Homo sapiens: one gene and its partners. The protein of the gene in region 2 interacts with the protein of the main gene of each other region in a pairwise test. Each region holds a gene or a part of one and is shown on either strand. Other genes may lie near its edges. The genes, in order: ACOT13, RBBP6 and PLG.

Evidence for each region.
Region 1: the proteins of RBBP6 (region 2) and ACOT13 interact in a two-hybrid assay, tested with the Homo sapiens proteins (one study listed by BioGRID and IntAct).
Region 3: the proteins of RBBP6 (region 2) and PLG interact in a two-hybrid assay, tested with the Homo sapiens proteins (one study listed by BioGRID and IntAct).

What each region holds. Positions count from the first base shown.
Region 1 is NC_000006.12:24,661,972-24,672,249, forward strand, and holds the start of ACOT13 (acyl-coenzyme A thioesterase 13), read left to right. Parts: upstream 1-5,105; 5' UTR 5,106-5,292; coding exon 5,293-5,373; intron 5,374-7,145; exon of another isoform or gene 7,146-7,967; intron 7,968-8,677; exon of another isoform or gene 8,678-10,278. Other genes in the region: TDP2 (tyrosyl-DNA phosphodiesterase 2), read right to left, coding at 4,555-4,640, 4,727-4,891. UniProt on the Homo sapiens protein: Catalyzes the hydrolysis of acyl-CoAs into free fatty acids and coenzyme A (CoASH), regulating their respective intracellular levels. Has acyl-CoA thioesterase activity towards medium (C12) and long-chain (C18) fatty acyl-CoA substrates.
Region 2 is NC_000016.10:24,533,781-24,544,463, forward strand, and holds the start of RBBP6 (E3 ubiquitin-protein ligase RBBP6), read left to right. Parts: upstream 1-5,785; 5' UTR 5,786-6,846; coding exon 6,847-7,012; intron 7,013-10,683. UniProt on the Homo sapiens protein: E3 ubiquitin-protein ligase which promotes ubiquitination of YBX1, leading to its degradation by the proteasome.
Region 3 is NC_000006.12:160,745,043-160,755,407, forward strand, and holds the end of PLG (plasminogen isoform 1 precursor), read left to right. Parts: intron 1-7,072; coding exon 7,073-7,218; intron 7,219-7,857; coding exon 7,858-8,019; 3' UTR 8,020-9,055; downstream 9,056-10,365. UniProt on the Homo sapiens protein: Plasmin dissolves the fibrin of blood clots and acts as a proteolytic factor in a variety of other processes including embryonic development, tissue remodeling, tumor invasion, and inflammation. In ovulation, weakens the walls of the Graafian follicle.

The DNA of each region.
Region 1 (10,278 bases), on a different chromosome or scaffold from region 2:
TGCTGTATTGACTCAAGGTTTAATGGATTTAGGGCTGTGCAGGATGTGCTTTGTTAAAATTGTGTTTGCAAGCAGTATGCTTGGTAAAAGTCATCGCCATTCTCCAGTCTCGAGTACCCAGGGACACAATGCACTGCGGAAGGCCACATGGACCTCTGCCCAAGAAAGCCTGGGTATTGTCCAAGGATTCCCCCCACTGAGACAGCCTGAGATAATGGCCTCATGAGAAGAGAAAGATCTGACCGTCCCCCAGCCCGACACCCAAAAAGGGTCTGTGTTGAGGAGGATTAGTGAAAGAAGGCCTCTTTGCAGTTGAGAAAAGAGGAAGGCATCTGTCTCCTGCTCGTCCCTGGGAATGGAATGTCTCGGTATAAAACCCGATCGTACATTCTATTTACTTGGATGGGAGAAAACCGCCTTATAGCTGGAGGTGAGACATGCTGGCGGCAATACTACTCTTTATTGCACTGAGATGTTTGTGTAAAGTCAAACATAAACCTGGCCTACGTGCATATCCAGACATAGCACCTTTCCTTAAACTTATTTATGACACAGAGTCCTTTGCTCACGTTTTCCTGCTGACTCCACCATTACCCTCTAGTCCTGTCGCATCCCCCTCACCGAGATGGGGATAGTGATCAATAAATACTGAGGGAACTCAGAGACCAGTGCCCATGCAGATCCTCCGTATGCTAAGCGCCGGTCCCCTGGGCCCACTTTTCTTCCTCTATACTTTGTCTCTCCGTCTTATTTATTTTCTCAGTCTCTCGTCCCACCTGAAGAGAAATACCCACAGGTGTGGAGGGGCTGGCCCCCTTCATCTTACCACCAGAGAGAAAAAGCCAAGTGATTCCATGCCTGATCAAAGATGTTATTTCCTTTTTATGAAAAGCATTAAAACCAGAAAGGAGAAATTATTAGCTCTTTATTTCTGTCAAATCTTCTGTTTCATAGCTGAATTTAAAAATATATATACTATCATAGACAAAGGTGTTTGCTCATCACATCAGGCCCCTTACCTATCCGGCACACACACCTTTTTTTCCAAGTTTAAAGATATCCAACTATAACTCAATCTACCTCATAAAACTGTAAACACAACCCCTACTTTCCTCAACAGGTGGACTGTCATGGGTGATGTATGGGGAGAGCATGATGGTGTCATTAATCATAGCTTATACTTACTGAGCTCTATATGCCAGGCACAATTCCAAGTGTTTTACATCTATTAGCTCACTTAATCCTTACAACAACCCCATGAGGAAGGGGTTGCACAGATAAAGAAACTGAGGCAGAGAGAGGTTACACAGTTACTAAATAGCACAGGTAGACTCAGAACCATATTACTATCCCCACTGCACAAAGAAATTGAGGCAGAGAGAAGTTACACAGTTACTAAATAGCACAGGTGGACTTATAACCTTTGCATTTTGGCTCCAGAGTCCATGCTCTTATTCACTATGCCATCCTTTCCTCCTCTGTTTCATTGTAATCCAATTCCATATTGATATAGTTTGGATGTTTGTCCCCTCCAAATCTCATGTTGAGATATAATCCGTAATGTTGGTAGTGGGGTCCAGTGGGAGGTGTTTGGGTCATGGAGGCAGATCCCTCATTAATGTCTTGGTGCTATCTTCACGATACTGAGTTCTTCTTGCAAGATCTGGTTGTTTAAAAGTATGTGGCACCACCCCACCCCCTTGCTCCTGCGCTCTCCATGTGATACCTGGGCTCCCCTTTCCCTTCTGCCATGATTGAAATCTTCCTGAGGCCCAGCAGAGGCTGGGGCCATGCTTCCAGTAGAGCCTGCAGAACTGTTAGCCAATTAAATCTCTTTTCTTTATAAATTACCCAGTCTCAGGTATTTATAGCAACACAAGAACCTAATACAAATATCTCTGCAATTTATGCAACACCCACAATATTTAATATTTAATGCAGCAAGAAAAACCAGGCAACTGTATTAAAAATTTCCTTTTGGAAAAATGAAAAGGGAAATAAACTCTAAAACGTTGCTGTACAGAAATACTAAGGGAACAGAAAGGGACTGGCAAACTTTAGGGGCATGATTTGTTGACTTCATTCCTAAGCAGAGGAGGAAGTGCTTTTGTCAGTATATCTGGTGTCTTAGGTTTTATGTGTTAGGCCAGTGCTCCTCAATTTTAAATCACCTGGAGATCTTGTCAAAATACAGATTCTGATTCAGTAGGTCTGGGTGAGACCTAAGATTCTGCATGTCTAACAAATTCCCGAGTAGCAGTGGCACGCTGCTGGTCCAGAGTCCACACTCTAAATAACAAGGCTCTGGGACACGGGCTTTCAATGCTGGCTCTGCATTAGAATTACCTGCACAGCTAATAAAAAAAAAAAAAAAAGCCAATAAGGAATAATGGGCCCCACTCAAGACTAATGAAATTAGAATCTCTGGTTTTTTTTTTAAATTCCCCAGATAATTCCAATATGCAGCTAAGATTCAGCATAGCTGTTTTAAGAGGATTTCCCTTGTCTCTCATCAGAGACACTGAAGATAGATTCTAATGTAGGGGACTAAATCACTTTAGTGTTCAATTTCAATTTTTGTTGATATCCCAGGAATTCACTCCAGAATTGAGATTCCTGCGCCATTCATTTAAGACAGCCAATGCCCTTGCTCAGCAGGGTTGAGTTTTTCTGGTCATAAAATCTTCCAATCAATTTTTTTTTCCCTTTCATTTTTGCTAAAGCCAACATCAAAAATCTAATCAGGTCACAGGCCTTAGAAACACGCTGAAGTTTGCCCCTTCCCCATTTTTCTCTCTTGAGCAAACTAAACTTTAAAACCTCACTCTCATTCATACTTGACCTGAGTTCTGAGAGACAAGAGACCACAGCCTAATCAACACCTTTGCTTGTTTTTGCCAATTTACCATTCCGGGGTAAGAGAATCCTAATAGCCATGACACCATTGATCAGCTTGATCCGCATCTTTTCTGAGGGCCTATTACAGGAAATCCACTTATTTTGTTACTATTTATTGGTTACAATATAGTCTGTTGCAACCAACAGACATTAACTCAGGTTGGTTTGACCAAAACAGGAGAATTTATAAGGAAACAAACATGTCACAGAGCCTGGTACAGAAATACAGCCATGTTTAAGGAAGGGCAGTTAAGGGCTTTCTCTCAATCCTACACTTCAACTTCCCTCTGCTTCATTGTCTCTCTGCAGACCTCTGTTCTCAGCTTCTCTGTACACAAAAAAAGATATGTATGAATCCTCACAGGTGCTAAGTTAACATGTTACAGTTCCAGCTCCATAGGAAGACTCAGACTTGACTCTCTTGGTCCTAATTCTGAAACCAAGGAGAGGATCTGACTGGCCAGTTTGAGCTAGGCAAACACCTCCTAGTCCAACTTGCTCTGGTTAGTAAAACGGGAGCCAGAGACAAATCACTGTGGGTGAGTAAACAATTCCCCAACAAGAGGCAAGACAGAGAAAGGAACCTAAAGAAAATATCTTATCACATCTGTAAGCCAGTGTAGCTGAAAAGACCAAAGGGAAAATAAAGTCTCCACTATGAACAGTCAATTTTACAGGTTGTACATATAGCTGGGAGAATTTTATACATTCAGTAAATATTTATTGGGAGCTTATTATGTGTCAAATGTTGTGTCAGACTTTGGGAAATTAACAATGTACAAAACAGATACTCCTTACTAGATGTGCAGTCTAGTAGGAGACATAAAATAATGAACAGCAATTATAATACGGACTAAGGTATTGTAACAGGGGTCATGCAGGATGCTATAAGAGTACCTAAAAGGGGACTCTTACCCAGACTTAGGACATCAGGAAAAGCTTCCTAGAGATAAATCATGTCTCAGCTTGGGGCTTTAAGACAAATATTAGCAAGGAAGGGAAAAGAAAAAAATTCCAGGCACAGGTAATAAAGATCTTTACGAAGTTTCAAAGACAGGAGAAAATGACCCGTTGGAAAAAAGTAAAAGTTTGATAGGCCTGGAACCTGGAAAGGCAGGTTCTAAGTTATGGAGCCAAATAGTAGAGGGCCTTGTAAGGCAGCTACACTTTTTAAGTGCAGGAACTGGAGAGGGGCACTGAAATAACAGGAGTAGGTGTGCATTAAAAAAAAATAACAACAACAACAAACCTGTTATTCTGGCCGGTCAGCCTAGGGCCTAGAATAAATAAACAATACAGGAAGCAAGGAGACTTCCAAGTTGCCATTTTTCGATAGAAGGTTTAGCCTTCGTTCATTTGTTTCAAACCTCTCGCTTACTTATTTCCTTTCATTTGAGTTAAACATTACATTTCCATCTTTTCCTCCCTGGACCCCAAATCACGTTCGAAGCGACAGTCTGGTGCAGTGTTAGATCCGCTGCTGGGGCGCAACTCCGCGCAGCAGCAGCAACGCAAGCCCTGCTCCTCTGGCTACGCAGCTTGGAGATCTGCCTCAGCATCGTCCGCCCAGCTCCACGGCAGGTCCCAGGACGCGCAGGGCTACCTGGTATCAAACTGCCTCCGTGCGGACTGGCTCCCGCTCCCCTCATCACTTACTAGGTCTTGGGCTCAGAGATGGTTTCAGGTCGGCGTTCCAAGGCGCTCTCCTCCACCGGAGGCTCGAAGTAGGAGTTCAGAGCCCTCTGAAAAACAAAGGCACAAGGGATGAGGTTTGTGCGCTCCACCGACCTAGGTAATGGAGCCGGAAGCGAGGACAGCGAAAGCGTACTTCCATCTCCCAGTCGTTCTCGGCCAGGAAGCACTGAGCCACTGCGGCATCGCAGCTTGCGACCGAGGCAAACTCCACACACAGAAGTCGCCGCTTTTTCACCTCAGGCTCGCCCTCTTCCTCCGCCGCCTCCCTCCCGCCCTCCAGGCAACTCCCCAACTCCATCTTCCTGCCGCCTCTGCACCGCCCCTTTAAGCGGAACAGGAGGCCAACGCGCGGCTCTGCGCAGGCGCCTGTGTCATGGCGCTCCCGCATCAACCGCCCGGCGGGGAAATGCGCTGCTCTCGGAAAACTGGTGCAGCTGCGCCGCAAGGGAGCCGCCGGGGCGGTGGGTGCGAAGCGCGCATGCGCGCTTCGTCACAAGGGTGCGAGGAAAGTCAGTGAGCAAATCGCGGACCACCGGGGCTGCCAGCTCGCCTGACTCCCGGCCTCTTGCGCTCCTAGGGGCGGAGAAGGGTGCGGGCTCTTCGCCCTTTGTGTCCTCCTTCTTTCACTAACTTCTGGACTTTCCAGCTCTTCCGAAGTTCGTTCTTGCGCAAAGCCCAAAGGCTGGAAAACCGTCCACGATGACCAGCATGACTCAGTCTCTGCGGGAGGTGATAAAGGCCATGACCAAGGCTCGCAATTTTGAGAGAGTTTTGGGAAAGGTATGGGAAAGGTAGGGGAGAAGCCGTGGCTTCTAATGAAGGAAAAGAAAGCACCGTGCTTGGTGCCGTTGTGAGCTTTGAATAATTATCTCTTGTTAGGTTGTGTTCTAGTACGCCTGTAAATTCACCTTAGTAATAATGATTATTACTTTAATGGAGCCCCTAAATATGCTGGGTCGAACGCGTAAGTTCTCTATCTAAACATAGATAAGTATGGTTATGACTCGTGGAGACAGTTCCAAGGCTGGGAGGGACTTTGGAGTTTGATCCTTCAACCAACAAACGTCTGCATTGCTCCAGAGAAGAGTAAGAGAAACCTCTGCATTTAAGGCACATTACAGTCTAATTCTCTAGGCTCTAGAAGATTAGAAGATAAATAATTGCAATAAGGTACAAAAGCCAAGTGCTTGGTAGAGTGGTGAACGAAGGGAGAAGTTGTTCCTCTGTAGTGGTTTGGGAAATTTCTCAAAGGCACCCAACTCCTGAAGAAGTAAGTTAGCCCTTGGAGGAAGACTGAGTGCTTTTCTGAGACCAGCACTCACAAAGCCCGAAGGTGTTTGTTTGTTTTTGTTTTTTTAGGATGAGGTTTCGCCCTTGTTGCCTAGGCTGGAGTGCAATGGCGCGATCTCGGCTCACTGCAACCTCCACCTCCCTGGTTCAAACAATTCTCCTGCCTCACTCAGCCTCCCGAGTGGCTGGGATTACAGGCATGCGCCACCATGCCCAGCTAATATTGTACTTTTAGTAGAGACAGGGTTTCTCCATGTTGGTCAGGCTGCTCTCGAACTCCCGACCTCAGGTGAAACGCCTGCCTCCGCCTCCCAAAGTGCTGGGATTACTGGTGTGAGCCGCCACGCCAGACCTTGAAGGTGTTTGTTGTTGTTGTTGTTTTGAGATGGAGTCTTGCTCTGTTGCCCATGCGGGAGTGCAGTGACACGATCTCGGCTCACTGCAACCTCCGCCTCCTGGGTTCAAGTGATTCTCATGCCTCAGCCTTCCAAGTAGCTGGGATGATTACAGGCATGCGCCACCAAGCCTGGCTAATTCTTTATTTTTATTAGAGACAGGGTTTCATCATGTTGGTCAGGCTGGTCTCAAACTGCTGACCTCAGGTGATCCACCTGCCTTGGCCTCCCGAAGTGCTGGGATTACAGGCATGAGCCACCATGCCCCGCCAAAAGCAGGGATTTACTGAAAATGAAAGGACACTCCTGTGTTTGGGGTGTGGAGCAGCAGCTCAGGGGCCCTAATACCCCATTGAAGTCTCCTATTGGCCACTTGGTACTCATCTCATGTAAATGAAGTGGTGACCCACAATTGGCTGTGAAAAGCAACCAATGAAAGGCTAAAGTGAAGTTACAAAGTTGCCCTTATATGCAAACGAAGACGTGGCGTGCAATCAGATGGTGAAGTTACATAGTTACACTCCTATGGGAAGATCTGATTGGTTGCAGAAAGAATAATTTTTTTTAAGGGATAACTTACTTCTTAGCGTAATTTTGCTTTTTGCAACCAATCAGAGGTACTTTCAATTTCCCATCTGCCACACAGAAAAGGTGGGGGTTTGGAAAGGGAGAAGCCTCTGGTTCTTTTGTTACTTGGTGTGGGAAGTTAGGGTTTTACTTTCAATTTAGTTCTAGGAAGTCAGCGTGAAACAGCCCTAGGTTCCCTGCCTCCAGATCCGATTCTCCTGCCTCGCTTGTAAGAAAATCATGCTCCATAAGAAGCATTTATAACTAAACCTTGTGAACCCCAAAAATTTGAGACAGGTATCAGTTAATTTAGAAAGTTTATTTTGCCAAGGTTGAGGATGCGCACGCAGTGACACAGCCTCAGGAGGTCCTGACAACATGTGCCCAAGGTGGTCAGAGCACAGCTTGGTTTTATGCGTTTTAGGGACATATAAGACATCAATCAATATATGTAAAATGAACACTGGTTGGGTTCGGAAAGGCGGGACAACTTGAAGCGGGAAGGGGGCTTCCAGGTCACGGGTAGGTGGGAGACAAATGGTTGCATTCTTTTGAGTTTCTGATTTACCTTTCCTAAGGAGGCAGTCAGATACACATTTATCTCAATGAGCAGAGGGATGACTTTGAATAGAATGGGAGGCAAGTTTGTCTTAAGTAGTTCCTAGCTTGAATTTTCCTTTTAACTTAGTGATTTGGGGGCCCAAGATATTTTCCTTTACATTTGCCCCCTTTTCTTTTTTTTAAAAAAAATTTTTTTTTGGAGAAAGCATTTTAGAAGAAAAATGAGTCTTTGGTCCCAGATTTCATCTGATCGCTCATGCTAGGATGGTTTATTCCTAGACAGGTAAGTCCCAAGTTATTAGGAAAGCTAATTTTTAGAAGGCTGTGAACTCCCATGTCTTGTGAAGAGAAAATAGGGGGAGGAAGGGTGAAAAACAACAAACAAAAGAACAATCCTGGAAAATATACATAGGCCACGTTATTCTGAAGTCCATACATCAGTAGGCAGGTATGAAAGTGGCTTATGCGTGTAAATAGGTTGCTGTTATTTTCTTCTGAAGTTTAAGTTGTCTAGCTTCAGTTTGCAGGGCTTTACAAAAGCACAGCTGTTTTCAGTGACTCCTAATTAGGAAAAAAAAGGAAAAGAAAAGAAAAAAATTAAAAATATTATTTTGGAGACTTGTAGCCAGGAAAAATTAGAATTCAGCCTAAACTGTAGAAAATAATAAAAATTGAAAAAATTAGGCAAGACTAGTATCTAACAACAAGTGGACTGTAAGTTTTGAAACAATTTTTCTCTCTCCAGTTTTCCATTTTTACTAAAGACAAATCATGGTAGGACTGATTTGCTTTATTATATTTGACCAGATTATTTATATAAAGTGTAGCAAGAATAATTATTTTTCACATAGGCTTTTTAAAATTGGCTTTGAAGGAACTTTGTTCCATAGAAGGAATCTCAGATAAGATTCTTTTTAAAGCCAAGCTCAGCCATGGATTTGTACCATCAAATACCTATGAGTAGGGTGAATTTCCTCTTTTTGATGTTCCATGATAAACCAGGGGCTCCTGGACCTGTCAGAAAATGACATTCTTTACTTAGCACATATCAGAAACCCTGTACAGGGACTTTGTAAAGTGTGAGGCCAGTTTTCCCAAGGGCTTTTATTGGCTCCATAAGTCAGGTTTGATTACTTAAAGGAAAGTACACCTTTCCACTCAAAGCCTTGGTAAAATAATCAGTTTCTCCAACTGTGTCCTGTTACAAATGAAAACAGATTCTTACTGCACTTATGCAAATAACTGTATTGGCACAAGTTAAGAATACTCACAAATAGTTTACAAATTCTGGAGAAATCAGGTAGAGAGAAACAAATATGCTCCAAATTTTGTTGATTGGAGTATACTAAATTGTTAAAAGCTGTCAATAGCTCAAAAGAAAAGTTTCAAGGCTCTGAAAAACAAAGCAAAAGATCAGCAATGTTTAAGCAAAAAGTCAAAAAGATTAGTTCAGTCCCCTTAGTTAATTCCTATTCTGCTTGATATTCATGAGCATTTTAGCTCTCCATGAGTTCTGAAAGTTTTTCCTCTATTCTCATGTAACAATCTCCAAAGTTAATGGAGACCTGCATTCAAGAGGAAACAACAGGTGCTGGAGAGGATGTGGAGGAATAGTTACGTTTTTACACTGTTGGTGGGAGTGTAAACTAGGTCAACCATTGTGGAAGACACTGTGGTGATTCCTCAAGGATCTAGAACTAGAAATACCATTTGACCCAGCCATCCCATTACTGGGTATATACCCAAAGGATTATAAATCATGCTACGATAAAGACACATGCACATGTATGTTTATTGCAGCACTATTCACCATAGCAAAGACTTGGAACCAACCCAAATGTCCATCAATGATAGACTGGATTAAGAAAAAATGACACATATACACGATGGAATACTATGCAGCCATAAAAAAGGATGAGTTCATGTCCTTTGTAGGGACATGGATGAAGCTGGAAACCATCATTCTCAGCAAACTATCACAAGGACAGAAAACCAAATACCGCATGTTCTCACTCATAGTTGGGAATTGAACAATGAGAACATTTGGACACAGGGCAGGGAACATCACACACTGGGGCCTGTCGTGGGGTGGGGGGATGGGGGAGGGATAGCACTAGGAGAAATACCTAATGTAAATGACGAATTAATGGGTGCAGCAAACCAACATGGCACATGTATACATATGTAACAAAACTGCACGTTGTGCACATGTACCCTAGAACTTAAAGTATAATTTAAAAAAACAAATTTAACAAAGAAAACATTATCAAGAATAAATAATGAATCTCAAAAAACAACAACAGCAACAACAAAAAAAAACACTTTCTAAAGAGGACCAAAACAACACAACAATTGTGCGTGGATGACTAAAAGTTTTAGGGCAGCCATAGGCAAAGACACAATTGACAAGGAAATTTGATACCTCTCCTCTGTAGCACACAATAATTTTAACGTAACAATTATGATTATTACTGATAATGTACACTAGGTCATATCAGAATTACAGGAATTTCCCATAATTTTGGAACACATACCAATAACATATTTATACAAATACATCTCAAAGAAAGCCAAACACTGTTGCATATTTGACAATGCTTCCTGTGTAATTTTTGTACCAAATAAGCCAAATTATGCCATTTTTGGACTTCAGGGAATCTAATATCTTAAAGGACTAATTAGGTCAGAAAAAGACATAATTTATAATTTGATTTTGGAAAGTTTGTCAAATATCAAATGTTTAAAACACCTGATATCACAAAAATAGGATCACAGGTCATTATAAAATAAATCATTCATTTAACCAAAGTGATAACTCAAGGATTTCATAAAAAGGTGAAAACCTTCATTCTTTGAGAGAGGGGACTTAACT
Region 2 (10,683 bases):
CTACTCCAATCTGAAAAGGCTGTATGACTTCATCTATGATTCCAACTATATGACATTCTAGAAAAGGCAAAACTATGGAGACAGTAAAGAAATCAATGATTGCTTGGGGTCTGGGGTGGAAGGGAGGGTTGGGGAAACAGTAGCATAGGAGAGCCAGGGTAACACCTTATTTATTTATTTATTTATTTATTGAGACAGAGTTTCACCCTTGTCACCCAGGCTGGAGTGCAATGGCACGATCCCAGCTCACTGCAACTTCTGCCTCCCAGATTCAAGTGATTCTCCTGCTTCAGCCTCCTGAGTAGCTGGGATTACAGGTCCATACCACCATGCCCAGCTAATTTTTGTATTTTTCGTAGAGATGGGGTTTCACCATGTTGGCCAGGCTGGTCTTAACTCCTGACCTCAGGTGATCCACCTGCCTCGGCCTCCCAAAGTGCTGCGATTACAGGCGTGAGCCACTGTGCCCGGCCAGTGTCACCATTTTAAAACAGACTCCATCTTAAAACTAGCAAGGCACATTCCCTGCTGGTCACGGCTCATGGTCATAAGATGTTTACAACTGAAGAAACAGCTTAGTAATGCCTGCAAGGACAAACTCCTCCAACAACAAAATGTCCAGATGTCCCGATCTCTCATAACAATATATGATTTTACAACCATTATAGTCATGCTTTTTGATATACTTACGCACTAAAATGCCAAGGATAATTTTCTTTAAATCAACAAGGTAATAAATTTGTTATGCTGCCAGCCTACTAGCACATAGACACAGCTTAGCTTTTACATAGATAAGACCCTATATTAGAAGAGTTTAAAATAAAGACAGTGCATTCGTCCTGTTGCTTTCTGAGGATGCCCTACTCTGCAATGAAGTAGCTTTCAATACACTATCTCTTCTCACTGTACTCTGAGACTCATCCTTAATTCTTTCCTGTGCCAGATCCAAGAACCTTATCTTGAGGTCTGGATGGGGATCCCTTTGTCAGCAACAGGAAGGAGGGATGACTAAGAAGGACACAGGGGAATTTTTATATGTCACTATACATTTGCCAAAATCCACAGAATGCACAACACAAAAGGTAACCCCTAATATGAACTGTGGACTTTAGTTAATAATGTATCAATACTGACTCATCAATCCTAACAAATATATGACATCAATGCAAAATGTTAACAATAGTGGAAACTGTATGAGGGGAGAGGGGCATATGGGAACCCTATACTTTCCACTCAATTTTTCTGTGAACCTGAAACTGCTCTAAAAAAGAGTATATTATGTACCGACAAAAAATAAACATTAAAAAAAATTAAAATAAGGCTGGGCACGGTGACTCACGCCTGTAATCCCAGCACTTTGGGAGGCCGAGGCAGGTGGATCACTTGAGGTCAGGAGTTTGAGACCAGCCTGGCCAAAGTGGTGAAACCCCGTCTCTACCAAAAATACAAAAATTAGTCCGGCGTGGTGCTGAACTGTAATCCCAGTGACTCGAGAGGCTGAGGCAAGAGAATCGCTTGAACCCGGGAGGTGGAGGTTGCAGTGAGCCGAGATTGTCTCACTGTACTCCAGCCTGGACAACAGAGCGAGATATATATTTTGTCCCTTTTCTATTTATTTATTTATTTATTTATTTTTTGATACAGGGTCTCACTCTGTCACCCAGGCTGGAGTGCAGTGGCACAATCACAGCTCATTGTAGCCTCAACCTCCCAGGCTCAAGCAATCCTCCCACCTCAGTCTTCTGAGTAGCTGGTACCATAGGCATGCGACACCATGCCTGATTAAGTTATTAATTTTTTGTAGAGATGGGTTTTCGCCATATTGCCCAGGCTGGTCTCAAACTCCTGGGCTCAAGTGATACTCCCACCTTGGCCTCCCAAAGTGCTAAGATTACAGGTGTGAGCCACCACTCATGGACTCTTTATTAACAATATACTTCACAATGAAAAAGGGAATACAGTGATCTTCATTCTATATTATACCCTATATACCAAAAAAAATCAGATTGATTATGGAGTTTAAAATCATGAAGCTATATATAAACTGGAAGGAAATATAGCAAAAAAATATCTAAGGTGAGTGCTGAGTGGGCTACAAGCCATTTCTCAAAGCAAAAGCAAAAACCATAAAGGGAGAAAGGTCAATGGACTTTTGTTTGTTTGTTTGGAGACAGGTTCTCCCTTTGTTGCTTAGGCTGGAGTGCAGTGGCACGATCATAGCTCACTGCTGCCTCAAACTCCCCGGCTCAAGCTATCCTCCCACCTCAGCCTCCCAAAGTACTGGTATTACAGACATGAGCCACAGCACCCTGCCGGTCGATGGGCTGTATTACATAAACTGCAAAAAAATAAAAAATACCCCAACAACTGTAGGCTGAAATATTAAATAAAATAGAAAGGCAACATAAAAGCAATCAACTCTCTGGAGAAAATACAGTGTGATGTAAGGGATGTATCTACCTTCTGTGAATTGGACTGACAACACAGAGGCTTAGAACTATTTTTTTTTTTTTTTTTTTTTGAGGTACAGTCTCGTTCTGTCACCCAGGCTGGAGTGCAGTGGCAAGATCTCGGCTCACCACAACCTCCGCCTCCTGGGTTCAAGTGATTCTCCTGCCTCAGCCTCCCCAGTAGCTGGGATTACAGGTGTGCGCCAGTGCGCCAGGCTGATTTTTGTATTTTTAGTAGAGACAGAGTTTCACCACGTTGACGAGGCTGGTCTTGAAATCCTAACCTCAGGTGATCCACCCACCTGGGCCTCCCAAAGTAATGGGATTACAGGCGTGAGCCACCATGCCTGGCCTTGTTAGTGCATTTTTAAGATTACATTCAATATACAAGCATAGAACAGCTTCCGTGGGACCAGGCACAAGCTCAGTCCTGTAACCCCAGCACTTTGGGAGGCCAAGGCGGGAGGACTGCTTGAGGCCGTGAGTTTGAGACCAGGGTGGGTAGCATAGTGAGGCTCTGACACTACTGAAAAAACTAAAAATTAGCTGAGCATGTTGGCACAAGCCTATAGTCCCAGCTACTCAGGAGCCTGAAGCAGGAGGATTACTTGATCCCAGGAGTTCAAAGTTACAGTGAACTGTGATTGCACCACTGCACTCCAGCCTGGGTGACAGAGCAAGACCCGGACTCCAAAATAATACTACTAATAATTAAACAAACAAAAAGAGAACAGCCTCCATGAAATAGATCTCATTCCGACTTCCTGAGCTTGAGTAGTTCACTACAGACAGCAGGCAGGCAGAGCTCCTTGGATCTCCCAATTCCGCTTGCTGGAACTGAATTTTGACATAAGAAAATAAGTTAAGGGGTTTACTAACTGTCTATGGTCAATGGTATGAGGCTATACTGGGTTTGAGAATGACAAAGGTTTGAAATCCTGGGACATGGGAGCTCCAGAATTGTTACATTATGAGAAGCTTAGACAGGAATGCTTCATTCACTGTAGGATAGTACAAAAGGCTTTTTCAGGGCTTACAAAAATATTGGTAGGGAGAGAAGCGTCAGGGAGACCAGCTCCATATTACCCAAAGAAAACGGCAAAATTTACAATTCAGCTCACTGAAGAAAAAAGAAAATAAAAAGTTTTTTTTTTAAAAAAAGAAAACTGCAAAATGAAGATTAGTAAAGGAATTCAGTGAAATGGACCAAATGTAGCATTGTGTCAATTAGTCAGGCAACTCAAGTCATAGGCTTATTGCAGGTGGTGAATGCATTTTGACCTGTTTGATGTGATATGAAGTGAGGCCTCTGTAAGTGAGAATATCAAGGTTGAACAAAGTTTTTGGCAGATGAGAACGGTTGGACCAATAGACAACATTCTTTCCAAGGACATCCCCCCCTGCAGATTAGGTTATGATCCACTCTGTCATATCCTGAGGGTGTGGCCCACTTTGAGATCCCATGATGCACCACGCTGATTAAATTAGGCATTCAGTATATAAAGGGGTCGGCCACAGACGGGCAAAAGGAACAGATTCACCGCTTCGGAGTGAATTCCATGACGGCTTGCAATTTTCTCGTCGAGTTTTTCTTTCACTAGAGATAGCCCTCGCCCTTTCATTCACACAGAGGCTTTTAAGAAAAAAGCAACCAACCTGAAGAGGACCTGGCAGCAATAAGTTTTTGGTGAAATAACAAAGAGGTAAAAGTGGAAGAAACTTGTTATATATGAAAAGTACTGATGTGTGTGGTTGAGTTAAATTGTAATGGTATCTCTAGAGCTGCCCTTGACTACGGCCAAAATTTTATTGCCACGACATCTCTATGGATCACGTAAAAATGTATCCAGTTATTCAGCACGTATTTATTGAGCACCTACTATGTTCTAAGAGCTGAGGATACAGCAAAAACAAATATAAAGATAAGATTCCTATTGTCAGCCGAAGGTAGGGGTTGGGGGAGATAGATAATTAAAAAGTAAATGTGTAACTGTCAACTATCTGCAAGTGCTAGGAAGAAAAGACTAAAGGGATAGAGAAAGATCGCCATCTTATTTTAAAAAGATGGCCTTAGGAAGGCTTTTCTGGCAGGATGGTGATTAATTTTAAATCAAGTTCAGTAAGAATTTGGAGTGTGCTTGCAGGAAGTCCCTGGGAAACTCTGCTACTTCTCGGCTATAGGATCTTATTCTCAGTTGCCTAAATTCACTGAGCCTAGCCTGTAAAATTCAGAGAGGATGAGGAACATGGATTGTAAACGATAATAACTATCGTTTATGAATGTAATTTTATTATATTATGATTTTTTCTGAATGTAATAACGTCCCCATGCCCAAAGGAAAAAAAAAATTCCAATCTACTGAGGGGGTTCTTGTCACTGTTCCTGGCATTTGCGCTTAGGAATGGAATCGGGACCCTGCCACTGAGCAGGCATCCCCTTCTGCAAATTCAGAAAGTACATGATTGCTAGCTTCAGTTCCATCATCTATAAATCGGAAATAATGTCATGTTGACCACGTAGGGTTTTTGTTGTTAAATTGACATTTATTGAGCTACAGCTATTAATATTTCGGTGCATTGAGCCACGTCAATGCACCGGCATGGTCTTAGACTATGGATTTATGTGCATTTATTTAATCCAAGTAAACCAAGTACTATTTTTAATGGCATTTTACAGCCAAGGAGACCCAGGCACAGAGGGGTTAAATCTAGAGCCCCCACAGCCAGGGATCCAACCCAGACAACGTGGCTGCTGAGCCTGGCAATGTTGTTATGCGATCAGCCCTGTGCCTAGCACATAGTAAGAGCTCAATAAATCTGTATGGTGCTGGTGGCTGTTATCAGTTCTTGGCAGCGGCTGCTCCACGATTTCCACTTGTCAAGAGTATAGGGTAGCCAGTTTATTGGAAGCAGCAGCTAGGGAGCGCTTGCATAGCAACCATAGTTTTCTGCGTAGCAACCATAATGCTCACTTAAATTGGGAGGCTTAGAGGAGCTGACGGGGCCTGTGGGGAAGGGGGAGTTAGCCGGCCACCCCTAGGCAAGCCACTTTGCAGTGGAAACTGCACGCAGCCCCTGCAAGGCGAGCTCTCCCCACCGAGCCTCCCTGTGAGCCGGTCCTCCTGACGCGCAACCCCCCTCCCTTTTGAAGCAGATGGTTCTTCCCGTTGTCCCTGCTCTTTCAGTTTCCGCGCTTTGGAGTCACAAAGCGCGGGGTCACGTGGGCGGGCCGTGCGCTTTGTGACGTCAGCCGCCCCGCCTCTCGGCCCGCCTATCCGCGCACGCCAGCCCCGCCTCGCGCGCGCCGCCCGTGCAATCCCTGCTTAAGAGACCCCGCAGTGGGGCGCTCGTCCGAAGCCAGGCCGCGTCCGCCATAGTACCTGGCTTGGAGGTGTCGCCGCCGCTCGGTGAGAGCCCCCGAGCGGCAGGGGGCCAACACAAAAAGGGAGCCGGAGAAGCCCTAGCCGCTGCCCAGCAGCTTGCGGGCGTGTTCTCGCGGTTCCGGGCCTCAAGGCGACGGAAACGAAAGGCGAGCGAAGCGCGGAGGATCCGGCGAGAAGAAGCGTCAGGGAGCCTCGGCGGTGTCCCCGGGGTCCGCCGAAGCCACCCGGCCGCCGGCTGGGGCCCGGGGTGGTGAGGAAGTGCTCCGAGGCCTCGCCGAGGCCTAGCGCCGGCTTTGTGTCCGAGGCGGCGGCGGCGGCGGGGGGAGGCGGAGCCGGGGGCGGCCTGCGGGAAGGCCTCTCCTCCGCCGACCGCGCGTTTTCGGCCTAGGCCGTGGGGCCGCTCGTGGCCTCCGGGGAGCAGGCGCCAGGGGTTTGTGTGCGGTGGGGGCCTGGGCCTGGGCCTGGGGAAGCTGACGCCGGTCGTCCGGAAGCCAGGAGGAGGCGTGAGGCCGCTCGTGGACTCCGGGCCTAGGCCCTCTCCCCTCAACCTTCTCCCGGGGCCTGGGTCACCCCAATCCACGGAGAGAGAGACCCGCCGGGAGGTGCGGCCGCGCTATGGACCCCTGACCCCGTGGGGTCGCTCGGACTCTTAACGTGTGGACTGACCGCTACTGACTGCACCGCCAATCCCCCCGTCTCTGCCGGCCCCTTAGCATGAGCGAGGGGGACCCAGCCGGGTGACATTGTGCCCGTTGGCGGATTCTCGATTTCCCCTCTTCCCCGTCCTCGTCCTCCTCCTCCCCCATGAAGTGATTCTGAGTATCGGGGGGTCTCTGGATTATTGTTCTGACGAACCCCTGCTTGTGGTTGGGGGGTATTTAATCTGAGGCCTTAGGGTCCTTCGGTGTCTTTGAGTGTTTTGTGTGTACATATTTTGCTCTTAAAGTTTATAAATATACGTATATTGAGAGTGTCCACGTCTCCTCGCTGAACCTTAGGAATCCCTTGGCACCATGTCCTGTGTGCATTATAAATTTTCCTCTAAACTCAACTATGATACCGTCACCTTTGATGGGCTCCACATCTCCCTCTGCGACTTAAAGAAGCAGATTATGGGGAGAGAGAAGCTGAAAGCTGCCGACTGCGACCTGCAGATCACCAATGCGCAGACGAAAGAAGGTAAGGGCCGCTTGGTCTTAAGATATTTGGTGGCTGGAGAGAGATACTAGCTAGAAGGTGCCTGGCAGGAAGCTAACCGCCATTATGTCTCTAGTGGGGACTGTTCGTTCTAGTACTTTGGATACAACTTTCATTGATAGCCAAGGTTTGCAGCAGTTGGCCTTGGAGTTTCACTGGTTTATTTTATTTCTGCATACTTGGGTCATCTGTAACAGGCTAACCCAAAACGTGGAAGCCTGATTATTCTTCTCGCTGTTTTTTAAAATGAGGGAGGGAGGAGAGGGGGATAGCTATCTAGACTCTTTGAGTGCTTGTCTTAGGGCGTTTTCTAACTTATTTTCCATCAGGAGGGCAGGAGAGCCTGTGCAAAGCTTGTTTGTTCAATCAGCAAAAAAAAAAACAAAAAAAAAACCAAAAAAACAATTTTCTAACCTAACAACATTGTGGAGTTTGATGGCAAATTTTATGTCCTGCCTTCCTCCCTCCTCGCATTTATTTATTTGGAGTTGCTTGCCTGTGTTGTGGATAAGGGATCTGAACTTTAATATTTTTGAGGATTTAATCAGTATTGGAATTGTTTTTGGATCTTGAAATGTTCTGATGTCACCGCTCTTGTCTTGTGTGTCAATTCCAGAATTAGTAATACGGCAATTAAGTAGTTAAACTGTTAGTTCATCACATTACTCTTAAGCTTTATCAATTCGGTGAAGATCAAAAGTACTGATTTTTTTTAAAGTAGTAGTTGCTAGATTTTACGTGACTGTTGATACTAAGGTACTGAAAAATAGGCTGCTACCATAGAGTACAAATAAGCCACTGATAAGAATCGTTAGATTCTTTCTCCTTTTCAAAAGTATTTTGATAATATTGGGAACTTAACAGTAGATAAATGTGACAAGCAGTCTTTCCTGACTCTGAACTTGTTTTGGTTTCTTTTTCTCAGATCAGTAATGCTGATGTGTATTTTTTAGCAGTTCGGTGTTCTAAAAGTTACTGATGGAATGAGAAGAAGTGAAGTTACAATTAGGTTAGGGTATTTTTTTAGTCACTAAATTTTTATCACACTTAAGGTGTGACATGGATTCTTTTAGTTGAAATGGGAGGTCCCCCACCTCCAGCCTGTAGTTTAGGTAGAGTAAATCTTGTCATGTAGAAGACCAGTTTTCCATTTACAATGCAGACCTAAGTATAATTGTATTAGGTTAAGGAACAGCAGTGCTGGCATATCATGACTCAAAAATATTAAGGAAGAATTTATTTGCTCAAATGATATTATGTGAAAATACTGTCTGCTTCCCCACCTTTTAAAAACAAGTGTCATACCCTTTGATAATTGGAGCTATGTGTAATCCTCTGCCTAAGGAGAGGAAAAACTGGTGGTGGTCATGAACAGTTGAGAAATAGCTTTATTTAAGTGCCTCACAAGCATCCCTTAACTACAACAGTCACATTTCACAGAACAGATGGGTTTATAAGAAGTTTGGGCCATCTTGACATATTGAGTATTTATGAATGAGAGGAGAGACAATATGAATGGAATTAAAGGATATTAAGGCAATTTTAATCGTCATATATTCAGGTTTCATATTTTACTGGAGTATTACACAATCGAATCATTAGGGCTAGGCGTTATCCATCTTTTCGACCCAACAATTGAATGCAGCTTTTTTTTTTTTTTTCCCCTGAAACAGAGTCTCACTCTGTCACCCAGGCTGGAGTGCAGTGGCACCATCTTAGCTCACTGCAACCTCCGCCTCCCTGGTTTGAGCGATTCTCATGCCTCAGCCTCCCAAGTAGCTGGGACTACAGGCATGCGCCACTACACCCAGCTAATTTTTTTTTGTATTTTTAGTAGAGATGGGGTTTTGTCTTGCTGGCCAGGCTGGTCTCGAACTCTTGGCCTCAAGTGATCCACCCACCTGGGTCTCCCAAAGGGCTGGGATTACAGGCATGTGAATGCAACTTTAGACTGGGTAAGTTATAGTTAAAAGAATCCTGTCCGGAAATTTAAGAGTTTTGTGACTTTGTGTAACCAATTTTTTTTTCCTAGCCCAGGAAATAAATGATACGTAATTCAAACCCAGAAAGCCAGGAATGTGTTTTTGCCCAGCACATTTTCTTTTTTATATTTATGTGAACTGCCCTTTATTGGAGAAAGCTTTGATGTTCGGTTTGTTAAGAAAAGGGAGCTTTGAGGGAGAAAATGTGTATTTTATGCAGTCCTCAAATTAAGAGAGAAAGAGATATTGATGGTAGCTACTTAACTAGTTTTATGGGAAATAGTATCCAATGTCACAAGGCAGTTGAGTAGAATGCCATTTGGTTTTAGCACCGATATTCAACATATTTACTAAAGAAAACTATGGTAATCTTTTTATCACAGTTAAGGTCCAGTTTCTTAATTTCATTCTTATAATTTTAAAATCCCTAATCTACCATGTTTCTGTAAAACATTTCCTTACAGTTTTGGAATTATGTGCATGTTTAGGTCCCTTAAATCTTTTTTTTTTTTTTTTTTGGAGACACATCCTCACAGGCTAGAGTATAATGGCACAATTTTGGCTCATTGCAGCTTCAACCTACCAGGCCCAGGTGATCCTCCCACCTCAGCCTCCCAAGTAGCTGGACTACAGCCACACACCACCATGCCTGGCTAATTTATTGTAATTTTTTTTTATTTTATTTTGGTAGAGATGGGGATTTTGCCATGTTGCCCAGGCTGGTCTCCTGAGCCCAAGTGTTCTCCTGCCTTGGCCTCCCAAGGCCATCCCAAAGTGCTGGGATTATAGGCTTGAGCCACTGTGCCTGGCATAGGACCCTTAAATCTTGATAAGACTGAAACGCTTGGGTCAGAATTCCATGGATTTTAGACAAGAATCCTGCTTGTTTCTAGACTGTATTTCAAAATGAATATCAAGTAATCTTTGTTATATATGAGAAACTTTTCTGCACACCGACCCCTAAAAAACAAAACATCCTTCGTTCTGAAATTAAAGTGTGAGAGGTTTGGAAGCTGAATATGAAGTGTTTATAAATGACCCTTGTCACCTTTCTTACTCTCCATTTCTCGGATTCATTCTGTTTTTCATTTCATCCATGCCTTTCATGTCTGGGGTCAAAAAAACTGGCAAGCAGAAAGGGTCTTTTGAAGCCAACAGACTACTTGTTAAGGAGGTATTTTAAATGAAATACCCCCAAAGTGTCTTTATTACCCCTAGAAAGATACTTTGAGGGGTAAGAAATCATTGTAATTCAGGTATTTAAAAAGTCAGTTAGAACATCTGTTTTGAAGGGCATTGAGGCACCTTTTAGTTTGACACAGTACGGTGCTAATCAAATTAATAAGCTGTCTTGGAAAGCTCTTGTGAGTGCATTGAGTTGTTACATATTCAGAAACTTCCTGTCAGGTGTTTGACACAAAGTTTTATTTCTAGAATTAACTTTTAAAAAAATCTAGTCACCCCATGCTCTCAGTTTTTCTGACTCAAAGCTTCCTCGGAATTTGGGGCTATCATGAACTGTCCAAGATAAAGATTATAGTCCTACATTGGCATGCCTAAATCTAGGAAATTGCCTACCTCTAATTGAATGCCTGTGAGATAGTGCCTTCTACTTGAAGTATATAGAAAATAACCCTTGCCTGAACAATTTCATTTCTAACAATACTATTA
Region 3 (10,365 bases), on a different chromosome or scaffold from region 2:
GGCACTTGCTGAAGATTGTTTTATGTCCAATTATGTGGTTGATTTTTAGAGTATGTGCCACATGGTGATGAAAATGTACATTCAGTTGTTTTGGGAAAGAGAGTTGTGTAGAGGTCTATCAGATCCATTTGGTCCAATGCTGAGTTCAGGTCCTGAATATCTTTGTTAATTTTGTGCCTCGATGATCTGTCTAATACTGTCAGTGGAGTACTGAAGTCTCCCACTATTATTTTGTGGGCGTCTAAGTCTCTTTGTAGGTCTCTAAGAACTTTATGAAGCTGGGTGCTCTTGTGTTGGGTTCACATGTATTTAGGATAGTAGATCTTCTTTTTGAATTGAACCCTTTACCATTATGTAATGCCCTTCTTTGTCTTTTTTGGTCTTTGTTGGTTTAAAGTCTGTTTTGTCTGAAATTAGGATGGCAACCCTTGCTTTTTTGTCTGATTTCCATTTGCTTGGTAGGTTCTCCTCCATCCCTTTATTCTGAGCCTATGGGTGTCATTACATGTGAGATGGGTCTCTTGAAGGTAGCATACCAGTGGGTCTTGCTTTTTATCCAGCTTGCCACTCTGTGCCTCTTAAGTTGGGCATTTAGCCCATTTACATTCAAGGTTAGTATTGCTATGTGTGAATTTGATGCCCTCATTGTGTTGTTATGCTGGCTTGTTTGTGTGATGGTTTTATAGTGTCATTGGTCTGCGTATTTAAGTATATTTTTGTATTGGCTGGTAGCCATCTTGCTATAGTTAGTGCTTCTTTCAAGATCTCTTGTAAGGCAGTTCTGGTGGTAACCAACTCCCTCAACATTTGCTTAGCTGAAAATGATCTTATTTCTCTGTTGCTTAGGAAGCTTAGTTTGGCTGGATATGAAATTCTTGGGTGGATATTTTTTAAGAATATTGAATATAGGCCCCAATATCTTCTAGCTTGTACGGGTTCAGTTGAGAGGTATGCTGTTAGATTGATGGGGTTCCCTTTGTAGACGACCTGTCCTTTCTCTCTAGCTGCCTTTAACATTCTGTCTTTCATTTTGACCTTGGAAAATCTGATGATTATGTGTCTTGAGGATGATCTTCTTGTATAGAATCTCACAGGGGTTCTCTGTATTTTCTAAATTTGACTATTGGCCTCTCTAGCAAGGTTGAAGAAGTTTTCATGGACAATATCCTGAAATGTTTTCTAAATTGTTTACTTTCTCCCCATCCCTTTCAGAAATGCCAGTGATTTGTAGATTTGGCCTTTTTACATAATCCCATGTTTCTTGGAGGCTTTGTTCATTCCTTTTCATTCTTTTTTCTTAATTTTTGTCAACTGTCTTATTTCAGAAAGCCAGTCTTCCATTTCTGAGATTCTTTCCTCAGCTTGGTTTATTTTGCTATTAATACTTGGATTGCTTTGTGAAATTCTTACAGTTTGTTTCTCAGCTCTCAGCTCTGTCAGATCCATTAGGTTCTTTTTTAAACCAGTGATTTTGTCTTTCAGCTTCTATATCATTTTATTGTGATCCTCAATTTCCTTGGATTGGATTTTGCCATCCTCCTGGATCTTGATGATCTTCATTCCTATCCATAGTCTGAATTCCAGTTCTATCATTTCAGCCAGCTCAGCCTTGTTAAGAACCCTTGTTAGAGAACTAGTGTGGTTGTTTGGAGGACATATGGCACTCCGGCCTTTATGTTCCTTTAACTGCAGTGTAGGTTGAATACAGCCAATAGACTTGTTCTTTGGATGTTTTTACAGGGCCAAAGCCTTGTGCAGGGTCTTTATTTGTAGTTGATTTCTTGTCTTTGGTTTCATAGTGTGGTATGTTAGCAAGGTATTTTTGGTGTTGAAGCTTTGGGGTGTGATCCATTTTTTATTTGTATATTTCCCTACACCTAAAACAAGCAAAAAAACAGTAAAGGTCTTTGAGTCTCTTAATCCATAATTTCAGCATTCCTGAGTATGCTTCCCTGGGTAAGTGGGGTTTTCACCCAGCCCTCAAGTTAAGAGTGTTAGATTATTTTTCATGTGAAATTAGCCAGACTGGCTTTCTTAACACAATGTAAAACAATAACAACAAAAGTTATAATTAGACTAGTCTTCTTCCCAAATACCCACATGTCTAATGTAAGTGGGATGGTGTTAAACAGGGGACCTACAACTGGGGGAGAGGCGGACAGGTCCCATGGCCCCAGGTCTAGGATGGCATTTGGTATTGGTTGATGGGTGTGGATGAGAACAAGAGAGGGAACACTTGTGCAGGATATGGTATCAGCACCTGTAATACATTTTAGGGATTCTTTCTTCTCTTTGCAGTATGCCCTGACAATAATTATATCCATCAGCCTAGTCCCCTTGGCCATTGAAACACTAAGACTGTCTTAGGATCCCTGCTGCAGTTTCTCAGAGGTGCTAGGAGGGCATTAGGAGTCTGAAGCCCTGGAAGTGTGTTCTGACTTTGCCACTAGCTAGATAGACCTGGACTAGGCACGTTACCTCTTTGTACCACTCAGCTCTAACCCCTCATTCAAAAACCCAGCATTTTCAAGTGGTGTTTTTCACATCAGCCTTTGCATAAGTTTTCATTTGAAGAAAGGTTTGTTTTTGTTTTCTTGGTTTAATCAAACATTTAAAAACGAATGGTCTAGATGATTTCAAAGTGGCTTTCCTTTTCCTGTGCTTTTCCTACTATTTAAAAACTTTACCTCCTTGATTTCTTGATCTCCCTTTCTGCACTGCTGGGTCTGGGAGCATTGAGGCCAAGTAAAAGGAACCTTGGCAAAGGAGGAACACCTATGGGTGTGCCAGGCTGCTCCCAGTGTTTTGCATTTTTAAAAATTTAAATGCTGCAAACCTCTATGAATTACATATTATTGTTCCTAGTTTACAAATGAGGAGCCTGAGGCTCAGAGAATGTGTGGGATGGTACAGACTAACCTGAATTAGAACCCTGGCTCCCATTTACTGGCTGTCAGGACTTAGAAAAGTCATAAACTCTCTGGCTGGGTGCAGTGGCTCACGCCTGTAATCCCAGCACTTTGGGAGGCCGAGGCAGGCAGACCACGAGGTCAGGAGCTTGAGACGAGCCTGACCAACACGGTGAAACCCCGTCTCTACTAAAAATACAAAAATTAGCCGGGTGTGGTAGCACACCCCTGTAATCCCAGCTACTCAGGAGGCTGAGGCAGGAGAATCGCTTCAACCTGGGAGGTGGAGGTTGCAGTGAGCCAAGATTGTGCCACTGCACTCCAGCCTGGGTGACAGAGTGAGACTCTATGTGAGAAAGAAAGAAAGAAGGAAAGAAGGAAAGAAGGAAGAAAAGAAAGAGAAAGAAAGAAAGAAAGAAAGAAAGAAAGAAAGAAAGAAAGAAAGAAAGGAAGAAAGAAAGAAAGGGAAAGAAAGAGAACGAAAGAAAGAAGGGAGGGAGGGAGGGAGGGAGGGAGGGAGGGAGGAAGGGTGGGTGGGTTGTGAACTCTTGTTGATTGTTTCCTCAGCTGAAATGTGGGCTGCAGGGCTATTGGGGGAGAAACAATAAGAAAGTGCACCAAGCACCAAGCACATGCTAAGAAGTCCATCATGGCAGCTCCTGATAATAATATGGAATAGAGTTGTATCTAACATGACTCTTTCTTGCAAGTGACAGAAAATGCAACTTAAGTTGGATTAAGCAAAAAAGAGAAATCATTAGTGAACTGAAAATTCTGCAGGCTCACATCATGGCCCCAGACCCTGTCCATTATTCTTGGGCACAAATGTGACATTCTCGTGGCTGCAGATGCTGTGGTGGCTCTGGCTCTGCCAGGAAAAGAAATAAGGAAGGCCACTCTCCCCATTACACAAACAATAGTCTTCCAGCTCTGAGAGGTCGAACTTGTGTCACCAGCCTGCCCCTAAACCCGTCACTGATTAACTCCAACCTGCATCAGCTGTTCCATGCTGGAGGTGGACGCAGGACCACACTCATACCAAGATGGGGGCAAAGTGTAGTTCCCTCAACAGGATTATAGGATATAGTGTGATAGGCTGCTGGGCAGCCAAAAAGCAAACAGATCCTCTACAATTCCTCAACTGATGAAAGCACGAAGCTAAAATCATAAAGATCTGTGTGTGAGTTCTGGCTCTCCCATCTTCCTTGTGAGATTGAGCAGTTAGTTAATCTCTTTTAGCCTCAGCTTTCTCACCTGTACCAACATATAAGGTCATTGTGAGGATTAAGATTATGCCTCATGATCATCATTATCATCATCACCATCCACATTGCAACCACAACTACCATCATCATCCCCACCAACATCATCACCACCACCACCATCACAATTATCATTACCACCACCACCATTGTCACCCTCAACATCACCATCATCACTATCACCACCACCATCATCATCACTACCACTACCAACACCATCACTCTCATCATTCCACCACCATCACCATTAACATTACCATCACTATCATCACCACCACCACCACCACCACCCCCATCATTACTGCCATCAACATCACCATCACCATCATCACCACCATCACCATCATTATCAACCATCATCACCACCATTCCACCACCATCACCATTATCATCACTACCATTATCACCACCACCATCATCACCACCACCACTACCACCACCATCACCACCATCATCACCATAACCATCATCACCACTATCAACATGATAGTAATTATGATTACCACCACCATTAGCATTATCATTACCACCACCAGTACCATCACCATCACCACCGCCACCACCTCCATGATCATTACTACCCACCACCATCACCGTCACCATCATTTCACTACCAGCACAATTATCATTACCACCACCATCACTACCACCCTTATCACAACCCTCATCATCACCACCATTCCACCACTGCCACCACCACCACCACCATCACTATCATTAACAATAGACATCACATAACCAGTTTGTAGCTGGACCTTGAGCCCAGAGCCCACTCACTGTTTCTTCAGTCCCACCGCCAACCACCAGGATGAGTCACAAAACATAACTCAGGCCTGCTCCTCAATTTTCTACATGTCAATAATGACATTGAAGCAATGGGTGTTCTCTGCTTCTCAGAGGGAAGTTGAAATTCTCCTGCTCTTCCCTTCATGTTTCCAGATGTTCCCTGACTTGGATATTCCAAACGCAGAGTTTGGAGGTGTTGAGGCCAAGGGGTTTTTCCAGGTCAGCCATCATCTGCAATCACTGAGCTGATCCTGCTGCTGGACTTTCCCTGTTGCCCTCTCCCCAACGCCCCATCGGGGAGGGCTTCAATCCTCAGGTCACCTGTGGCCTTTCTGCCCTCAGAGGTGCCATCTCTACATCTACCACTGGAAGGCAGCACCTACTCACAGATTGCATCAATTTCCCAGCAACTCATGGTGGGTTTTCCCCCTTATCAGCGTGTTTGCCTTGCTCAGAGAGCAGATCCCAGAGCAGTGACACCTAACTTAATTTTCAGCAAAACATTTTGAGAAGGGTGCTCCCTCACACAACTACACAGTCCAGGTGATGCACCCACTGCCCAATGCTTGGTAGTCAAGAGGAGCTTCCTCCCTGCAGCTCTGCCCAGATAGGGCTGAGCTGGGCTCTGGAGCCAGGCGCTGGGATGAGCCTCTTCCATGCTGCTCATGTAAACTCCAGATTCAGTGTCGGTTTTCTGAACCCGAGACAATGATCTAAATGCAGTCGAAGGCTTTGGGGAAAGAGAGAGTGCCTCGGTTCTTACCTGTGTCATGCTCGCAAAGCAAAGAGTTTTGCAAAATTTTAATGAAACCTGGGCTTGCAAAATTGGAAAACTAGATTATTTGTGACGACACTGAGACATCCCTGGGCATGTCTATCTGGAAAAACGGCATTTTCTCTGGCAATTTTGCAGACATTCTATTTCAATTTGGCAAAGAAAATAAAGCAGTTTTTCACAAAGGCAGAAATACAACTAGAATGTTCACTCTCCCTAATTGTCAAAGAAGTGTAAATTAGAAAATGAATCAGGACAATTTCAACCTATTAGATTAGCTAATATTTTAAAAATTGAAGACTCATACAAGTGAGGTGAAGTGATTGTTTTCTAGTGGCACGGTACACTGTCACACCCTTTTAGAAAATAATTTGGCAACGTTATTGGGAGACAGAAATATGTCTATGTAATTTATGGGAACTTAGACTCAGAAAATGTTAAGGAATAAGAATGAACTTTATGAACAAAGATGTGGAAAGCTGGAAGCAAGAGTGGGGCCAACACGCATGGGGAGGAAGCATTTGGGCAGTGACTCCACAGACCCAGGCTCAGGCTGAACTACACAACCTCCTTACGCCTCAGTTTCCTTAACAGTAGAACAGAAATGATAAAAGTGCCTGTTTCACAGGACTATTGCGAGGATTAAGTGAGATACATCGCATTATAAGCTTGTGTCTGGAAAGGTTAATTCTTGGTAAATGATGACTATTCTTTTTTATTGCAATAAAATATACAAAACATAAGGTTTACTATTTTAACCATTTTGGAAGGTACCACTGAGTGGCATTTAGTACATTCACAATCATGTGCAACCATCATCATATTTCCAGAACATTTTCCTCATTCCCAAAGGAAACCTCATGTTCATTAAGCAGTAGCTCCCCTTAACATATTAGTTATGAAGATCATAGCATTATACAAAACTCATGACACAATGATGAGTGAAAAAATCAAGATGTGAAATTTTGTGTTATGATGTAATTAGTAAAAGAAGCATATTAAAACATCTGAAAAAAGAGTATATAAAAATAGCAATTGCATTTTTCAGACTCTACATTTTAAACATTATTCTTTATAGTTTTAAAAGCAAAAAGTAAAGAAACAACAACCAACCCCAAACCAACACGACAAAGCCCAGATTGTTAATTCCAGGGCTCAGGAACACAGAATCATATATGATGTTTACACTCTGCAGGGTCAGAGACTCCAGCGGCATTGGGAGCTGCCTCGTGTTCTGCAGCCTCACAGACAGGAGGTCCAGTGCCGCTGCTCTGTTCTGGAATATCCTCCTGAATGTGTTTTGGGTGCAGTTGCCATTTCTTTCATCTTTTTAAACACAGGTACTTTTGGAGCTGGCCTTCTCAAGGAAGCCCAGCTCCCTGTGATTGAGAATAAAGTGTGCAATCGCTATGAGTTTCTGAATGGAAGAGTCCAATCCACCGAACTCTGTGCTGGGCATTTGGCCGGAGGCACTGACAGTTGCCAGGTAAGCAAAGATCAAGAGACCAAAGTTAGTCTTGTGCTCTCTTGTCTCAGTCTCAGCCCCTCAGACTTCATTCCCCAGGTGGCAAATTCAAGGATTTTCAACCGAAGACCCCAGTCTAAGTGTTGTTTAGAAACTTCCTAGATCTGTCCCTGAATGCGTATTCAGATCATCTAAGGGGATGTCTTGGGGCTTGAGTTCCAAATCAGTAGCAAGCGAGTTTTAAGTGCCATAACTACCTCAGGCCACTCACCCTCCTGGGGTGTGCTGGTGGCCAGGGACTAAAGTGGTGACTTTTCCGGTAGGGAAGGAGGTAGAGGATACAGGACAGAGACCAACTGCACACACTTTACACTGATGCCCAGGCTAGCCCAGTCTAAAGGAAACACCAACATAGGAAGGGATGTGTGCAGGATTCACAAAAGATCTTTTCTACCCCCCGGAAAAACTAAGTGGTGTGGTTTCGCTAAACAGATTTTGCTAAGTACTTAAGCACTGCAGATGCTTGAGTAATATGCTCATAAGTTCCTTTCTGATTTCAATTACTGGGAAAATGTATATATGGATAGTAGAAGGATGGCATCCCATAATAAAAGGCAGGCAGCCTAACCCTCACATGCATTTTTCTCTCCCTCTGTATAGGGTGACAGTGGAGGTCCTCTGGTTTGCTTCGAGAAGGACAAATACATTTTACAAGGAGTCACTTCTTGGGGTCTTGGCTGTGCACGCCCCAATAAGCCTGGTGTCTATGTTCGTGTTTCAAGGTTTGTTACTTGGATTGAGGGAGTGATGAGAAATAATTAATTGGACGGGAGACAGAGTGACGCACTGACTCACCTAGAGGCTGGAACGTGGGTAGGGATTTAGCATGCTGGAAATAACTGGCAGTAATCAAACGAAGACACTGTCCCCAGCTACCAGCTACGCCAAACCTCGGCATTTTTTGTGTTATTTTCTGACTGCTGGATTCTGTAGTAAGGTGACATAGCTATGACATTTGTTAAAAATAAACTCTGTACTTAACTTTGATTTGAGTAAATTTTGGTTTTGGTCTTCAACATTTTCATGCTCTTTGTTCACCCCACCAATTTTTAAATGGGCAGATGGGGGGATTTAGCTGCTTTTGATAAGGAACAGCTGCACAAAGGACTGAGCAGGCTGCAAGGTCACAGAGGGGAGAGCCAAGAAGTTGTCCACGCATTTACCTCATCAGCTAACGAGGGCTTGACATGCATTTTTACTGTCTTTATTCCTGACACTGAGATGAATGTTTTCAAAGCTGCAACATGTATGGGGAGTCATGCAAACCGATTCTGTTATTGGGAATGAAATCTGTCACCGACTGCTTGACTTGAGCCCAGGGGACACGGAGCAGAGAGCTGTATATGATGGAGTGAACCGGTCCATGGATGTGTAACACAAGACCAACTGAGAGTCTGAATGTTATTCTGGGGCACACGTGAGTCTAGGATTGGTGCCAAGAGCATGTAAATGAACAACAAGCAAATATTGAAGGTGGACCACTTATTTCCCATTGCTAATTGCCTGCCCGGTTTTGAAACAGTCTGCAGTACACACGGTCACAGGAGAATGACCTGTGGGAGAGATACATGTTTAGAAGGAAGAGAAAGGACAAAGGCACACGTTTTACCATTTAAAATATTGTTACCAAACAAAAATATCCATTCAAAATACAATTTAACAATGCAACAGTCATCTTACAGCAGAGAAATGCAGAGAAAAGCAAAACTGCAAGTGACTGTGAATAAAGGGTGAATGTAGTCTCAAATCCTCAAAGAGCTGTGTTTATTTCATTGACAAATAGATTATTTGTATTCAATTCTGATGTGCTTTAAGGATGAAGTTTCTCATTTTACAATTAGCACACACTTCGTATATGTTGTCACCTGTTCTCCTTACACAAATGTTGTTCCCCATTTTGAAGGATTCCCTTTGGTACCAGTTTTGCCTGTCCACATAAAGTATTTCATTTAAAAAGCTCAGCATAAAATATAGACTGCATCTGAAAAGATATTGAATATAATATACATAGCAGAACACACACGTTCCACATTTCAAAAGCCTCGATAACAAAAAAGAAAGATCAAAGCCCTTATTAGTCGCTGTAAAGCCATTTATAAAGCTCCTGCTGATCCTGTTAAGCATGGATATAATTGACCTTTCTTTTAAATTAAAATGTAAGCTTTTCCCCAAGACAACTCAAAGTGCCAAGACTGAATGGGAACTGTCCATGTTTCTAACTCTTGGCCACGGGCACCATCAGAACTGAACTTAACAAATATATGAAAAATATCTCTTCATTTTTAAAATCCTAAGACCCAGAAATCATAATCCATGGGATTTGTTTAGTAAAGAAGAAAATCTGTGGCTCTAGGTGTCCACTAAAGGAGAGCCAAAAATGTCCCGAATAATCTCAGGACCACAGCATCATTTTATGAATAACAGAACCAAGACCTCAGATTGTACAACAGATTGGTTCTTATTGCTGGAATGGGGCATAAACCATGCCTGGAACCCCAGATGCTACAGAGAAGGTAGATGGGAGAGACTTCTGACCTGTTCATGTTGCAAAGGCGTGCGGAGACCAAGGTGAGCAGAGGACACGAATGCTCACATTCTGTGGCCCAGGAACCTGTGATTCAATCTCCTCATTAACAGGATTCCCAAATTTTCATCCTCCCTGCAATTTTTCAAATGCTCGGTTATGGGCTTAGTCCCTTGACTGATCAGATTTGATGAACATTTCTGCACAAATTTCCCAAATCCTTGGTTTTCAAATCCTGCATTCTTGATGGAGCTGTTATGAGAATCGGGTGGGGGGCTTCTCTCGTCTCTCTTTAGCCTAATGAATCAGAGACCAGGAAGAGCCATGCACCTGAGAGGCTCTTTTTTAAGCCAGCTACATATTATGTGTTCCCAGAAACTTCAACAGCACTACAAATAATCCTAACTCATCCAACATTATATAAAAATACTCTGGATAGATTGAGGTCTTTATACAGTATTACAACAGTGTGGCATAATGTAGCTGAAATGCACACGTGCATCTCTGCAAGGACAGCTTTGCAAGGAGGATCAGCTCCTGGATAGCTCCTTCCTTCCCTCTGTCAGGGGCCTCAAAGGTGAGAG